Homo sapiens: one gene and its partners. The protein of the gene in region 4 purifies or fractionates together with the protein of the main gene of each other region. This does not show direct contact. Each region holds a gene or a part of one and is shown on either strand. Other genes may lie near its edges.

The links.
Region 1: the proteins of CFAP97 (region 4) and ANAPC1 purify together in Homo sapiens (affinity purification with mass spectrometry; one large-scale study listed by BioGRID and IntAct). This does not show direct contact.
Region 2: the proteins of CFAP97 (region 4) and ANAPC16 purify together in Homo sapiens (affinity purification with mass spectrometry; one large-scale study listed by BioGRID and IntAct). This does not show direct contact.
Region 3: the proteins of CFAP97 (region 4) and ANAPC4 purify together in Homo sapiens (affinity purification with mass spectrometry; one large-scale study listed by BioGRID and IntAct). This does not show direct contact.

What each region holds. Positions count from the first base shown.
Region 1 is NC_000002.12:111,860,194-111,863,693, forward strand, and holds part of ANAPC1 (anaphase-promoting complex subunit 1), read right to left. Parts: coding exon 3,482-3,500; intron 2,406-3,481; coding exon 2,196-2,405; intron 1-2,195. UniProt on the Homo sapiens protein: Component of the anaphase promoting complex/cyclosome (APC/C), a cell cycle-regulated E3 ubiquitin ligase that controls progression through mitosis and the G1 phase of the cell cycle.
Region 2 is NC_000010.11:72,233,012-72,236,360, reverse strand, and holds the end of ANAPC16 (anaphase-promoting complex subunit 16), read right to left. Parts: coding exon 3,245-3,349; 3' UTR 501-3,244; downstream 1-500. UniProt on the Homo sapiens protein: Component of the anaphase promoting complex/cyclosome (APC/C), a cell cycle-regulated E3 ubiquitin ligase that controls progression through mitosis and the G1 phase of the cell cycle.
Region 3 is NC_000004.12:25,390,763-25,394,262, reverse strand, and holds part of ANAPC4 (anaphase-promoting complex subunit 4), read right to left. Parts: intron 3,353-3,500; coding exon 3,248-3,352; intron 1,926-3,247; coding exon 1,842-1,925; intron 459-1,841; coding exon 372-458; intron 1-371. UniProt on the Homo sapiens protein: Component of the anaphase promoting complex/cyclosome (APC/C), a cell cycle-regulated E3 ubiquitin ligase that controls progression through mitosis and the G1 phase of the cell cycle.
Region 4 is NC_000004.12:185,158,072-185,163,644, reverse strand, and holds the end of CFAP97 (cilia- and flagella-associated protein 97), read left to right. Parts: intron 1-719; coding exon 720-847; 3' UTR 848-3,980; downstream 3,981-5,573.

The sequences.
Region 1 (3,500 bases), on a different chromosome or scaffold from region 4:
GAGGCTGAGGTTGGGGAATCACCTGAGCCCAGAAGGCCAAGGCTGCAGTGAGCTGTGATTGAGTCACTCACTGTACTCCAACCTGGGTGACAGAGTGAGACCCTGTTTCAAAAAAAAAGAAAAAGAAAATACTGGGGCAAGATGTCATGAAAACTAATTTTATTATAGTTCAGCAAAAACAAAACTCTCCTTGACCAAGACTCCCTCTAATTTTGTATCTTCATTCCTATTCAAAGGCAAACTCCTTAAAGAGTCTGTATGCCTATGTTCATTTCCTCAGTCCCCATTTACTTTTTCTACCCCACTTTCCCCCGCCACCCTCCCAGCTTAAAATGCTCTGGCCAAGGTCACCAAGGAACCCACTGCCACCCAGGTACCTCCTCTCTGGGTTCAACTCTCAGGGCCACACTTCACCAGTACCTGGCAATACTGGCATCTCTGTATTCTTGAAATGTTCTTTTTTGTATTCTGTATTTCCTGCTGCTTCTCCCATCTGACCTCTTTTGCTTTGTCTCTCTGTGCCAGCTTTGTCTCTTTCCATTCCCCAAATCTTAAGTTTCCAGGACTTCAGTTCCTAGCCCTCTTCTCATTCTACACCACTGGATTTTAACTATTTGGAGGCCACAAATCCCTTTGAGAATCTAAGGAATGTTAAAACCCTCTCCTTGGGAAAAGGCCTATATACTACATGTACACACAATTATTGAATACAATAATTCTTCAATTCTAATCTAATTCTCTTACCTCAATCACCACCTATAAGCTGACAATTCCACATTTATTGTTCTGCTCTTTCCCAAACTTCCGACACACTTATAAAGTGCCTTCTTACCGCTGTCATCAAACATACCAGAGGCCTAAAGGGCAATCAGTAATCTCTCAAGCCTCCTTTTTTTCTTTTTCAGACAGTCTCACTCTGTTGCCCAAGCTGGAGTGCAGTAGTGTGCTCTTGGCTCACTGCAACCTCCAACTCCCAGGTTCAAATGACTCTCTCACCTCAGCCTCCAGAGTAGCTGGGACTACAGATGCACGCCATCATGCCTGGCTAATTTTTGTATTTGTAGTAGACATGGGGTTTCACCATTTTGGGCAGGTTGGTCTTGAACTCCTGAGCTCAAGTGATCCATCTGCCTCAGCCTCCCAAAGTGAGTGATTACAGGTGTGAGCCACTGCGCCTAGGAAGCCTCCTCTTCATTAGCCTTTTCCCTCCCCTCTGCAAAAACCAGAGTGGAAGTACTTGTAATTCCCTAAATACACCACGCACTCACCAGAACTTTTGTTCTGATCCCAGCTGCCGTCTGTGGTCTTTCTCAACTTCCCTGCCTAGCGAATACCTATTCGTCTTTCAAAGCCCTACCAGCAAAAGTAGTCCCTCCTGTGTCACCATCCTTCAGCTATCTGCCTCTTTTGAGGACAGGGACAGTGACTTATTAGACTGTTAACTAGCACACACATTGGCATATAAATTAACACGTGAATTATTAAAGAGAATATAAAAGAAGAAAGGTCACCCAGAACAGAGATCTAAGCTATGTTTCCCAAAAAGTAAAGCTGGCACTCAACTAACATGAACATAAAACTTAGGAAACGTGCTAAAACCCCACATTTCCTCACGGATGGAAATTAACTGTTTCTCCCCAGAACAAAAAACACCCGAAAAATGAGAGATTATTACTATAAAGGAAGAAATATCAGATGACAAAATAATATTTTTATGATGACTTTTTTTTTTTGAGATAGTCTCACTCTGTCACCCAGGCTGGAGTGCAGTGGCACGATCTCAGCTCACTGCAAGCTCAGCCTCCTGGGTTCAAGCAATTCTGCCTCAGCCACCTGAGTAGCTGGGATTACAAGTATGCACCACCACACCCAGTTAATTTTTGTATTTTTAGTAGAGACAGGGTTTCACAATGTTGGCCAGGCTGGTCTCGAACTCCTAGGCTCAAGTGATCTACCAGCTTCAGCCTCCCAAAGTGCTGGGATTACAGGCATGAACCACCACGTCCAGCCTATGATCACTTTAATATCATTAATATCCTCTACTGAAACTGAGGTGGCCTTAATACATATCTCTATATATTTTTACATATATTAATAACTGATCACATTAAAAGGAAACTTTAAACAAAATGCCATATATTTCCCAAGACTTTCAGCAACATTTTTCTTTGAATATAATAATATATATAACAAACCTTATATTAGTAATCGTTTCTGTCCACAAATGGTCAATACACAGTTCAGGAACAATTGGCTCCGTTTCTGGTGCAAGAAAGGAGCCATTAGAATTACTATTTGGAGAATGAGAAATACTATGTCTCTTTGGAGACTGATTATGGCTTGAAATGTTGAACCTTTGCACCCCTGAAAAAGAGTGCACTCCTAACGCAGGAGAATGAGCACGACTGCAAAATAAACAGAGGAGAGAGTACATCACAGTTAGCAAGGCAGGCTTATATGACACACACTCCAATGACACTTCCAAAAATTCCACAGACAGAAGAGCATTCATGGCATAATCCAGGTCAGAAATTAAAATTTTTCAAAAAGGAGTAGCTATTTAAATGGTTCATGTCAATGTGCTTTACTATATTCTAAAGATTTAGAATTATTATTAGAAGAACTCATCTTTTACAACTAAAACTTAGATCATCTTCTTTTTCGGAAAATGAATGATTATTCAAAAAGCTCTAAACTATGTCCCTGTATAGTCAGACATATATATTTATCAACAAAACAATGTCCCTGTAGCACCAGATATACATATCTGGTCATTTAAATATATATCTATATAGAGAAATAGATACATTTACATATCAAATAACAAGTAAAAAAAAAAGAAAAACTAACATAAATTAAGGCAAAAATAAAATAGTGCCACAGTATTTTGGGAATTAATATTCATCAAACTGTTGCCCACATAGTGGTAGAAATGAGGCAACTAACCTTAGGTCAAGCATAGGCAGCTTCAAAATATGACTCAGGAAAGAATGTGACATGGTAAACTTAGAAATCTTAGTAAAAGTGGCTCAGGGCTGAGCACGGTGGCTCACGCCTGTAATCCCCGCACTTTGGGAGGCCAAGGCAGGCAGATCACAAGGTCAGGAGATCGAGACCATCCTGGCTAACACGGTGAAACCCCATCTCTACTAAAAATACAAAAAAAAAAAAAACTCAGCCAGGCATGGTGGCAGGCGCCTGTAGTCCCAGCTGGAGGCTGAGGCAGGAGAATGGCATGAACCCGGGAGGCAGAGTTTGCAGTGAGTCAAGATTGCGCCACTGCACACCAGCCTGGGTGACACAGCAAGACTCCGTCTCAAAAAAAAAAAAAAAAAAAAAGGCTCAATTGGGATAATGGCTATTTCCCCTAAAAAACATCTCCCCTAAATATATTTCCCCTAAAAACAGCTGTCAACAGAAATTCTAAATCCTTCAAAACAAAACAGAAAGCTTAGAAAGAAAAACCAGGAAACCCTTATACCTTAGAGCTGCCATGTTGG
Region 2 (3,349 bases), on a different chromosome or scaffold from region 4:
GGTAGCGGAAGCCTTATTTTCTCCAGGTAGTTACTTCCTTTTACCATTTAATCAAAAGTTTTAGGATTTTTCCTAATACAATGTGCTGGGTTGGGTTTGGTGGGATGTGGCATAGTGAATCTAAAAGAAGCTGCTTTGGATTCTGGCTGAGTTGAACTTAAATCCAGATTTGGCCATTGACTTAGCTGTGCAGCCTTGGCAAGTGACACTTGCTCTGAGCTTCAAGTTCCTTTTCTATATTAGGGGGTATTACGTATCTTGCTGTGTTATTCAGAGGATTATAATTCATGCCTGTGAGTGACTGGCACAAGAGAAGACAGATGACAGATCAGCAACTGGGACCATCTTTGAGCCCAAAGCATAGTAACAGGCGTTGTGGACGATGCAACATAATGACTGACAAAAAGGTATAGAGAGGGAGGTACTCTCTTTAAAAAATTGTGAGAGTCTTATTCTTGGTAAGACTAAAATAGCAGCTAAGTGATCAATGAGAAAGGTGCTTCAAAAAGCATTTTTGTTTAATGCTAAGATCACTTCAGTTTCCAAGGTCATATAAAGAAACATCCAATTTAGAGAAAAAATTCTGTAATAAGTTCAAATACCAAAGCGTAAAGATGATGTAACACAGTGCCTATGCTGCATGGTTACACAAATGAAACGAGAAAGGTAGTGATTGCTTCTAAATTCTCACTGAAAATCCAATTTAAAGGTTTATTGCAGTCTAGGTATTTTTAATTTTTCCCTTGGTGATTATCAAGATGGTTGATGCTAATAAGTACTATTAAAAAACTAAAATGCTGTCGAATATGGAACTTCTTTTAGTTAAGAATTATTAATATAGAAAATGTGAGTTGGTGGACTGGTACTTCTTGTGCTCTGATTTTTATTTATTTATTTTCTTCTTTTTTTTGAGACAGTTTCGCTCTTGTTGCTCAGGCTGGAGCACACAGGCACGATCTCCACTCACTGCAACCTCCGCCTCCCGGGTTCAAACGATTCTGCTGCCTCAGCCTCCTGAGTAGCTGGGATTACAGGCGCCCGCCACCACGCCTGGCTAATTTTTTTTGTAGTTTTAGTAGAGACAAGGTTTCACCATGTTGGCCAGGCTGGTCTCGAACTCCCGATCTCAGGCAATCCGCCTGCCTCAGCCTCCCAAAGTGCCGGGATTACAGGCGTGAGCCACCACGCCCGGCTTTATTTTTTTTTTTTTGAGACAGAGTCTCGCTCTGTCACCCAGACTAGAGTGCAATGGTGTGATCTCAGCTCACTGCAACCTCCGCCTCCTGGGTTTAAGCGATTCTCATGCCTCAGCCTCCTGAGTAGCTGGGATTACAAGTGTGTGCCACCACACTGAGCTAATTTTTGTATTTTCAATAGAGACTGAGTTTCACCATGTCGGCCAGACTGGTCTTGAACTCCTGACCTCTAGTGATCCACTCACCTCAGCCTCCCCAGGTGCTGGGATTAAAGGTGGGAGCCACTGTGCCCAGTCTCCAATTTGCTTTAGAGGCAATAATGAGATGAATTATCAGGCAACTGGGATCTATTCCAAGTCCGAGATTTTCTTCTGCCTGGGCTATGTGACCATGAGCAGGTGTTTAACTTCACAGGGCTCAGGCTCTTAACCGACTGAATGAGGTCACCACCTCCCGTCAGGTAGAATGTGTTAAACATTTTGAACTCTTGAGATTAAGGCTAAATGCTACTGGGATTATATTTACTTATAATTAAGCAACTCTAAGCAGATCAGATGCAAGTTATTAATAAGGAACCAGACAAATGTTGTCTAAGGCAAAATTTGCATACAACGTAATAAATGATTATACCAGTTGTTTACTGTGGAAAGTGGGGTCCCATGAAGGAAAACAGCACATCTCTTAGCCTTCCAGGTTTTCCCCTATCATGGTATAAAAACTTACTTGAGGCCAGGCGCGGTGGCTCATGCCTGTAATCCCAGCACTTTGGAGGCCAAGGTTGGGGGGATCTCTTGAGGCCAGGAGTTCAAGACCAACCTGGGCAACATAGCAAGACCATGTCTCTTTAAAAAAAAATTGGCTGGGCAAGGTGGCTCACGCCTGTAATCCCAGCAATTTGGGAGGCTGAGGCAGGTGGATCACCTGAGGTCAGAAGTTCGAGACTAGCCTGGTCAACATGGTGAAACCCCGTCTCTACTAAATATACAAAAAATTAGCTGGGTGTGGTGGCGGGTGCCTGTAATCCCAGCTACTTGGGAGGCTGAGGCAGGAGAATTGCTTGAACCTGGGAGGTGGATGTTGCAGTGAGCAGAGATCGCGCCATTGCGATACAGCCTGGGCAACAAGAGCAAAACTTCGTCTCAAAAAAAAAAAAAAACTACTTAAATATCATTAAGATAAATTTATGTACTCCTATAAAGACAAATATCCCTTAAGTAAAGCCAGTCTACCATTTGTTTAGGAGAGATGGTTTTTAGATTCCCTTCTTCTAAAAAGTAATTTGACCTCTTCACTTCATCCCAAATCCCTGAGATTTTGAAAGGATAATGCCACCAATTTGGAGCTCTTTCAAAGGATTTATTTGCTACAGAATTGCTTGAGTCCACCAATGAGAAGAACTCAGGATTTCTGTGTTTAAAAGGATTTTGCTTACTGCTTTATTTTTACAAGTGCTGCCATATCCAAAAAGCACTTCTTTTTGCCAGCATTTGGCATGTCTATAAGAGGTTAGAAAAAGTCAGAATCTATAGAATTGATGTCTAAAAATAGGAAAAAAAAAAGAATATTTAAAAATTCCTCATTTGGATAGGTCCTGAGTTGAAAACACATTCATCTGCAAAATAACTTTTTTAGGTCAGAATGCTATATTTTTAACCACAGATGCTGACCTTGACCTTGACTGGTAAATATTTCCAGGCACCATATGGATGACAGGACAGACGCCATTCAGTTGGCCAAATCTGATATATGCCCTACTTGGCTTGTGAAAATTTTTGAGTATCTCTTAACCCCAAACCTCCTGGTTCTCTGAAACTGATTGTCTTAATCTGATTCCCAATACTTTTAAAAACAAATAAACAAAACATTCCCTGAAAGATCACACATATAAGTATTTGTTGCCTGTGAATAGATACAGAGAAACCAAGTACAAATGTGCATTAACAATTCAGTGACGTAGCTGTGGATCTCTGGATGGCTATGTAAGCTGTGAGAAAGTCCCCCACTGGCTTTGCACTTGCTGCGCACCAGAGGTGACCATCCAGGCAGTATCAACCTGAAGAGGGGGTGAATCCCAGCAGCTGCTCGATGGGCTTAAACCGCCACTCGTCAGCCTCCAGCTCTTCTACCAAACCAGCTAGTTTTTCCATCCGAGC
Region 3 (3,500 bases), about 160 Mb from region 4:
ATAAGCATATTTATTCAAAATTATAGGAGCATGACTCCCTTTCCTTGCCTTAGACTTCCATCAAATCCATAAAGTGATCATCTGAACATCAGTGACTAGAAGATAGCCAATCAGCTGTTCTAACACCTGCCCTTATTGCCAAAGCCCCACCAGCTCCACTTCACAATCCTGTCCCCACTTAAGTTGTATCAATGGGAAAAGAGCCCTTTTGGCAAATCTGAGGAAGCAGTTTGAAGTCAGACGAAGCCATTTGAAAGAAATTATGATCTTAGCCTTTTATGAATCAAACTGATTTTTCTCATGTACCTCAAGGTAAAGACATACATCATGCATTCTTTAACTCTCTCCATGGGAAACTTCAGCTGCTTTACCTGCACAAACTTGGTGAGACGAGAATCCATCTGCATTAGTATTTCTTCCCATGCTTCACACATACATGTTAGTGACAAATTTATATACTATTAGCAAAAAAGAAAAATTGAAATGGTAAAAAATATTTAAACCAACTTGCTATCTAAATAATATGTGCTTATGATCAAGTGTCTCAAAGAAATCTAGAATTTACTTTCAATCACTGTTTTATTTTTATTATTTATTTATCGAGACAGAGTCTTGCTCTGTCGTCCAGGCTGGAGTGCAGTGACGCCATCTTGGCTCACTGCAACCTCTGCCTCCCAGGTTCAAGCGATTCTCCTGCCTCAGCCTCCCAAGTAGCTGGTATTATATGCGTGCGTCACCATGCCCAGCTAATTTTTGTATTTTTAGTAGAGACGGGGCTTTACCATGTTGGCCAGGCTGGTCTCGAACTCCAAGCCTCAAGTGATCCACCTGCCTCAGCCTCCCAAAGTGCTGGGATTATAGGTGTGCGCCACTGTGCCCAGCCTCAATCACTCTTTTAACTCAGTTAAGATGGAGAAAAAGACAACAGCTTGGTCATCACTTAACTACGAAACATTCCATTGATTCTTAGAATTTCATAATAAAACATTCTTAAATTTTTATCTGGTGAAACAAATATCTCCAAGCTTTTTATATAAGATATGTCTTATCTACACTAACTGTCAAAATACTGGTTTGGTCAATTATTCAATTTTAAAAAGATACTGATCTCTAGAAACCTTTAATATCAAATAAATTAATGACTGTGGTAGAATGAAAAACATGGCCACAATCTTTTGTAGCCCCTCCAGTCAGATGCAGAGTCCATTTCTTCAGCCCTTGAGTCTCGCTTTGACTAACGGAATGCAGCAGAAATAACACTGTTGACTCCAGGGCCTCAAAAGTCTTTGTACACTTCCACTTGCACCCTCGATGCCCCGTTACCACCACCATGTGGACAAGCCTGTGCTGGCTCGCTGGAGTATGAAGGATGTGGAGTAGAGACAAGGAATCACAGCCAAGGGACACATACCAGCTGGCATGACCAAGTCTAGTCAAGATCAGCTGAACCTTCTCCAGGTCACCCAAACATCTTGGCTAAGCTGAGCCTAAATCACCAACCTACAGAATTGGGAGGTAATTTGGGGTGGGTTTATTATGAACAAATGTAAACTCATGTGAAGACTGTTTTTCCCACAATACTTTATAATGTAAATGGTATTTTATTTATGGGAGTATTTTAAAAGATTTAAACTCTTTTGGAGGTGGAAAATAGGGTGCGGTGAAAGTAGGTTCTCAATTAAATGTCCTTTTCCTGCTTTAATGGACCTTATAAGATCATCTATCAGACTAGATACCTCTACTTCAGAAAGCTTTACAAAACAAAATTTTGAAGCTTTTTATTTACAGAACTTTAGAAGCCGATAATAAATATTCACATAAAACAAGCTCTAAATAAATACCTGTAACAGAGCTGAAATATGAGTAAACTTTCTGGCCATCCGAGTTACTTCAGGTAAGAAAGAGTACAACAGATTAGTTTCAAGCTGTAAAATCAAAAGAGTAAAGTGAGTCATCATCAGATGCACTTGCTGCAAAGTCTGTAATTTAGAGTGTGGGTCAAACTACGTATCAGAAAGACTATGTCAGAATTGTGCCCTCTTTGAGCAGAACGGTTTGGAAACAGCACATAGCCTTAGGATCTCCTAACCTACACATAACCATACACAAATCACTCTCTCTGGGTTATCAACCCCTCCTGTGTAGATAGAATAAATGTAATATAACCTATTTTGAAACAGTATTACAAAGAAATGTTTAAATCACAAATATATGTAAAAACTTAAAGGAAGTATAAGGAATTAAAGGCTACTGATAAATATTGGGAAAATATCTATCAATGGTATATGAATTGTATCTTAATAAATTTGTCATTAAAAATGATCTGTTACCAACTTCACAGTAGTAGTGAATCATTTTATTATAATCCAAATGCAATCCTGGTGATCATAGTTTCACATAACCTTAAGAAGATGAGCAAATATGAACAACCATTACCATAGTGAACAGTAAACCAAGAGTTCTCTGATGCTCTGAATACAAAGAGAATGTTGGAAGACATCACACACATTGCATCTTGCATCTTTTTTGTTCTACTTTTGTTTGAGAGTTCACACATACTTAAGTGGCTGGGATATTTAAGATGAAAATTTTCGATTTCTTGGCAAGGCTATGATCTAAATACTCTATGGGAGCCCAGTTAGCTTCCTTAATCTACAATGCAGACAGCACGCAATAAAGCATTTTCCCAATATTAAGTGATCATTTTACACAAGATGCAATGTGCTAGTTAAGAGCACAGATTATGCAGCCAGATTGTCTAGCATCACTTTCCCATCCTGTGACATCAAGCAAGTTCTGAAGTATTTGTGTGTCCATGTACTTACCTATAAAATGGGGATAATAACAGTATCTGCCTATTATGATGCTGTGAAGATTCAAATCAACTGTTCTGAAGCATTCAGCATATGGCACATATTAAACAATCAATAAATATTAACCTTTGTTATTATCAGGGACAGAGTCCTAAGCAAACACTTGGTACAAAGTCAAACTGGAATAGCAACAAATTAATATGGTCATTAATAGACCACCAAAACACTTTTTATGAAAACTGTATTGGAGCATGGGAAGAATAATATGGTATTCACTATAATAACACTCAGTATATTAGGATGTAGAAATTCCAAGTCGATTTTTTTGCATTATTTTAATGATCATTACAATACAGTGAGATGTGGATAAAAACCTATATAAAACCTGTTAAATACATATTTACTCTCTACCGTTATCAAGTTCCAATACTCACCTGAAAGTATGAAACTTCTGAAGCACCATTGGTAGAGACTTCTGTGACCACTGATAATGATTTCAAATCACTTGATAAACATAATGCAAGACAAGTACCAGCAATCTGTAAAAGAGTCAAACCCCTTAGTATATTTAGTATCACTGCTAGGTTGAAGCTGATTATCATGCAGAAAGCAAAAACTCAGAGCTTTAAAAAGCAGAAACAAATTCCCAGCTCCAGCCACACACATGTAGCAGATGAAGGTAGGTGT
Region 4 (5,573 bases):
CTTACTGGATAACTAAAACAAAAATTAGCAAGCTGATCACACAACAAGCCTTACCGCTTTACAGTAAGCAGTAAGGCTTGTTGTGTGATCAGTTACAGACCTAGCCAGCTGTGTGCCCCAGAGAGTACAGGAATGGAGTGACCATTTAGTGCTGGAGTGTGCAACATCTAGAAAGGCCAGTGTCCTTTACAGAAGTCTCTGCTGTACTTCATGTATGCATTCTAAACCATATAATAAATAGAAGGGAATACCAAACCGCCCGATGCCACAACTTCCCAGCGCCCGCCCTCGTGAGTCTTCAACTCTCAAGACTAGTAGTTCCATTTATTCCTTCTCCAAACCTTGCTTCCGTGGTATAGTGACTAAGAAAGGGTCTTATTTTAGTAACTCATACTTAGCATTGTCCCTAAATGTAGTAAGTTATTTGTTGATTAGATATATAAATGGTTATACAAAGTCATTTTTTTCACGTGAATTATTTGAGAAGCTTTTAAAAATGTTTGTTTTCCACGCCAATCCAGTGAATCAAAATCCCCTGGTGTGGCATCTGGATATGTTTGTTATTATATTTTTTAACTTCCACAGGGAATTCTGAAGTGCATCCTAGTCGAGAATCATAGCATTAGACTATTAGACACACATAGAATGTGGAAGAAAAACTAGTCTGGACTTCAAGTGAGGAGAAGTTTCTCAGATATTTCTTCTTTTTATATTTTCAGGAGCTTCCAGGACATCCAGTGCTACGAGTGGTCTCAGTTGTAGGAGTGAGCGATCAGCGGTTGACCCCTCCAGTGGCCACCCTCGAAGAAGACCTAAACCCCCTAATGTCCGTACAGCTTGGTTATAAAACACTTTTTTACTTTAAACATTGTTCACACAACTTTTCTTGAAGTGCTCGTGCATATTCCTATAATTCTCTGTGTAAACATCTAGAATACCGTTTTAGCAATTGAAGGTGTACAACAGTGAGTTGTAATGTATTGTTATTCAGTGCAAAATTATTGTCAAAAAACGATTTAATGTAAAAAGTGTTTCCTGAGGATGTATTTATATGAGATGTATGTGTTCTTAATAGAGAAATAGTGGTATGCATGTGTATCTTCTAATTATTCAGTTGTCATGCTGTCAAAATAGTAGTGATAGTATCATTGCATGTCGTACCCAAGATGGTCACTATAGTTTTCAATTTGTGTTATTTTCATTTCTTTATAAGTGTTATACCATGAGCTCAGCTCCTAAATTTGGCTGGCTTTGTTTTTCATTTGCTTTAGAACTTATGTGGCATGACATAGCTCGATTGTATGAGATTTAACACTTATTATGAAACAAATCTTGAAATTTGTTTTCACTGGTAGAGCTGATCTAGATTTGATGAGCAGATTGAGAGACGCTTCTATTGGAGCAATTCTTGTAATTCACCAGAGGTATCTAGTTGTTGTATAAGTGCACTGAGTTAGATCTTAAAAGTTTGATCAATCATTCCAAACCATTTCAAATATGAATATTAGAAAGTTCAACTTAGAAGCTTCCCTTTTGTGTTTTCATGCATTCAGGTAAAGTCCTATTTATGACTCTTAGAAATGAGGTAGGTTTTAGAGCTAGTCTTCTAACTCGTGAATAGTTTAAGGACCACATCAGTTGCAAACCAAGTATTTGTTGAATCAGTAAAATGGCACTATCAGCATGAAGAGCCGAGAAGCAGATCCTGAGGTGTGTCGGACAGTGTTTTAGGTAATTCAGTATTTATTATGTTATTAGAGAAGACTTAGCGTAAGAAAGAAATGCTTTAGAAATTCCAGCAAGTATTTATAAGGCCTGAAAAAACTAAAATTTGAACAAAAAGGGAAATAAATCACACATTTGTTGAGGCTGCTGCTTTAAGTATTAGCTAATTTTCTTGTTTTGGTTTACTTTGATTTATTTGATTGAACCCTGGAAGTATTATTTTTACCAGTCCCACATTTAAAGACCTAGTAATCTTGATGGAATTGGTAATGGCAGATAGGGTTTAATGTTGTTGACTTTTCAAATTAGAATTTTTTTTCTATGAAACTTAGGCTTTTATATAACAAAGTATGTTATCTCATTGTTACCGCCGTTTTTCACTACTAGCCTTTTCAGTATGCCCTTAAAATGTATTGGAAAGGTTCCATGTTAAATGACAAATATCTTTTTCAGTATGAATTTTTGATCTGTAGCCACAATAAGATTTTCATTTTTCAGTGCTCAGGCTCTGTAGCATGTATGCTGAATGCTTTTTTCCTTAGCACCTTTAACAGTAAGGTGTTACTGCATTTTACAAAACATCAATTCAACATGTCTTGGATTTAGTTTGTATTCATAGATTTTGTTAAGGATCAGGCCTGTGAACATGGGCACAGTGAGGTTAAATAATTCACCTGGCCACAACCTGGCTTTGAGGTTCTGCTTTTGGGGGCCATAATTTTCATTCAATGTTATTCGATGCTCTGTTCTGGTGAACAAGTTACTATACCTGCTGTGTATATAAGCTTGAGCTATACTAAACCAAGGCTTTATTTTCTTTTGTTTTTTAACTTACTGTACTTTTACTGTTTATATAACCTATATTTCAAGAGAGAGAAGATAATGCTGAATTTTAAATTTAGCATTTGAACATCTGTCCAATAGTGAATTAATCAGTTTTTTTAAAATTGATTTTTAAGTTGTTCCAGAAAAAAATATATATATATGTTTTATATATATAATCTTTTTATATATATAAAAAATCTTTTTTATAAATTTTATTTTAAAAATCTTTTAAAAAAGATTTTTATATATATATAAAGATTATATATTTATATATAGTCTTTTCTGTTCATAATGGCATTAGTCTCTGAGTACATTTTATATTATCTTTGTTGCCACATGTCAGGATACAACACAATAGTTTTATAAATAACAACTGTACTTTGATTTTAGGTACTAATTTAATGCTTTAGTTTTTACTACTTTGAAAGGGGAGGTTCATCTAAGTATTACTGATAACAGGGATCCAACTTAAAGTAAAAGTTGGAAAGGGCAAGAGTCTTTTAAGCGGAACTTCAATTCTGTTGTCATGGTTACTTATATATAATGAATATAAATAGACAAATAGGACTTGGAAAATGTGGTATATTCTAAGTCAAGATGCTATGAAGTTGTTATAGTTTAAGGGACATTCTTAAGAAGGAATTACTTAAGTACATTACTCTTCTCATTTCAAGGACATGAAAAAGTAAAGGATGGTCTGGCACTATTTTATTTTATTTTTTTTTTGACTTGTACTGAATATATGTACTTTGAAGATTTACATCTATAACTAGAAAGTATGCTAATCCGAGGTCTGGTTATTAGGCCAGATTCTTGTTCAGTTATTTTTTAAACTAATGTTGCCTCCTTTTTAGTAAGATTCTACGAAAGTTTTTTAACTATTAAAGTTATTTCTTAAGGGGTAGCTCTTATACTTCCTCTGCTCTCTTTTTCAGTTTCCATAAAAAGCTGTTTTCTTAGCTATTACTCCAAATAAAGTTCTTTGGTTTGCTTAAAAATGTAGTGTAATGCAGTTGTTTTCTCTCCGCTAACCTGAGTGTCCACAGTAGATATCGAGACAGCTTTAGGAAGGTGACGGTCATGGGTAAGTGACGGCTGTGCCTGTCATCTTCAGATTCTTCAAATACTGCAAACTATGAAACATGTTAAGACCAATATAAACCCAAAGATGTGAGTTGATTATACTTTAATAATTACATTCATAAAAAGTTTACTATCTTCAATGCCAAAAAAGTCTTAACCTATAAATGATTATATACAATCTTAGAAAATGTGCTTAACAGTTATGGCTTCTTTATTTCTATGAGGAAAGATTAGTAAGAAACTTAAAATTAACATCCTTTTAAGATTTTCTGTTCCATTTTAATGTATTTTAGGCATTTAGAACTAGCCTGGCATAATGAAGAAAGAAATAAAAGAATTAAAGATAACTGAGTTTTGATCCTATGTTTATCTCTAAAATGGGCTGTCTTGTTCCAATTTTCAAAATTAGAATAATTTTTACGTGCCTTACAAGACCAAGAATTAGTAGGAATAAAGTTGGAAGGATGATGTCAGTTATTTCTGTCTTTGAAAGTATTTACATGGAAAAGAGTTTGCTTAAAATTATATTCTTAATCAGAATTTCTTTAAACTACATCATCTAATTGCTTCTGTAAAATTATTATGGTACTACAATACAGTGGACACTCTTACAGCTTAAAGAAATGGGCTTGTTGTTGTTGTTGTTGTTTGTATTTTTGAGATGGAGTCTGGCTCTGTCCCCCAGGCTGGAGTGCAGTGGCACGATCTTGGCTCACTGCAACCTCCGCTTCCCAGGTTCAAGCGATTCTCCTGCCTCAGCCTCCTGAGTAGCTGGGACTACAGGCACACACCATCATGCCCGGCTAATTTTTTGTATTTCTAGTAGCGATGGGGTTTCGCCATGTTGGCCAGGCTGGTCTCGAACTCCTGACCTCAAGTGATCCGCCCGCCTCAGCCTCCCAAAGTGTTGGGATTACAGGTGTGAGCCACCGCGCCCGGCCAGGAAATATTTTTTAAAAGGAGTCATGTATGTCATGTACATTGATGTACATGAAATGTACGTCAACATTTCATATGTATTCTATATAATAAACACACTAAAGCTTGCTGCAAAACATCAGTTTAGGAATTTTTTATGAGGGTTTAATAAAACTAGCGCCATTGGAATAAATTCCCGAGTAGCCCCTGCAGTAGCGTATCTGAGCTCTCAACAGCAAAGAGCAAGAATGCTAGAGCAAATAGGATTGTGTTATGGCAGAAAATTTTATTTGATTTTTCAGTTCTGGTGATGGATTTTTAATTCATTTACAGATATCTCTGGAGCCACCATAATAGACTCTTAAGATTCTGTGCTTCCATTTCAAAATTTAGTTGGTAAATCCAGGTAAGTTGCACTATTTGCCCTAGATGACATTTGTGAGGTTTAACTGTTTTACAAAATAAAACTTAGGAGGTAACATCATTATTTTACTATAATGAGACAGGGTTTTTTCACATGGCTCTAATCCACAATTATAAGATAGTAAAAGAATTTGAGGCCGGGTACGGTGGCTCACTCCTGTAATCCTAGCACTTTGGGAGGCCGAGGCGGGCAGATCACGAGGTCAGCAGTTCGAGACCAGCCTGGCCAATATGGTAAAACCCTGTCTCTACTAAAAATATAGAAATTAGCCACACATGGTGGTGCGTGCCTGTAGTCCCAGCTACTTGGGAGGCTGAGGCAGCAGAATTGCTTGAACCCAGGAGGCAGAGGTTGTAGTGAGCTGAGATCACACCACTGCACTCCAGCTTGGGTGACAGAGCGAGACTCTGTCTCAAAAAAAAAGAATTTGAAGAGTCACCAAAAAATGATTAAAAACTATGGTGCTAAATTCTTACAGGATATATATTACAATGAGAGTCTTCACCAAAAAACCACACATCACATTTATTTCATACATTTTGGAATTATAGCTAGTCTCCAAAGTTTGGAGGGTGCTTTGTTCTTGATTTGATTCTGA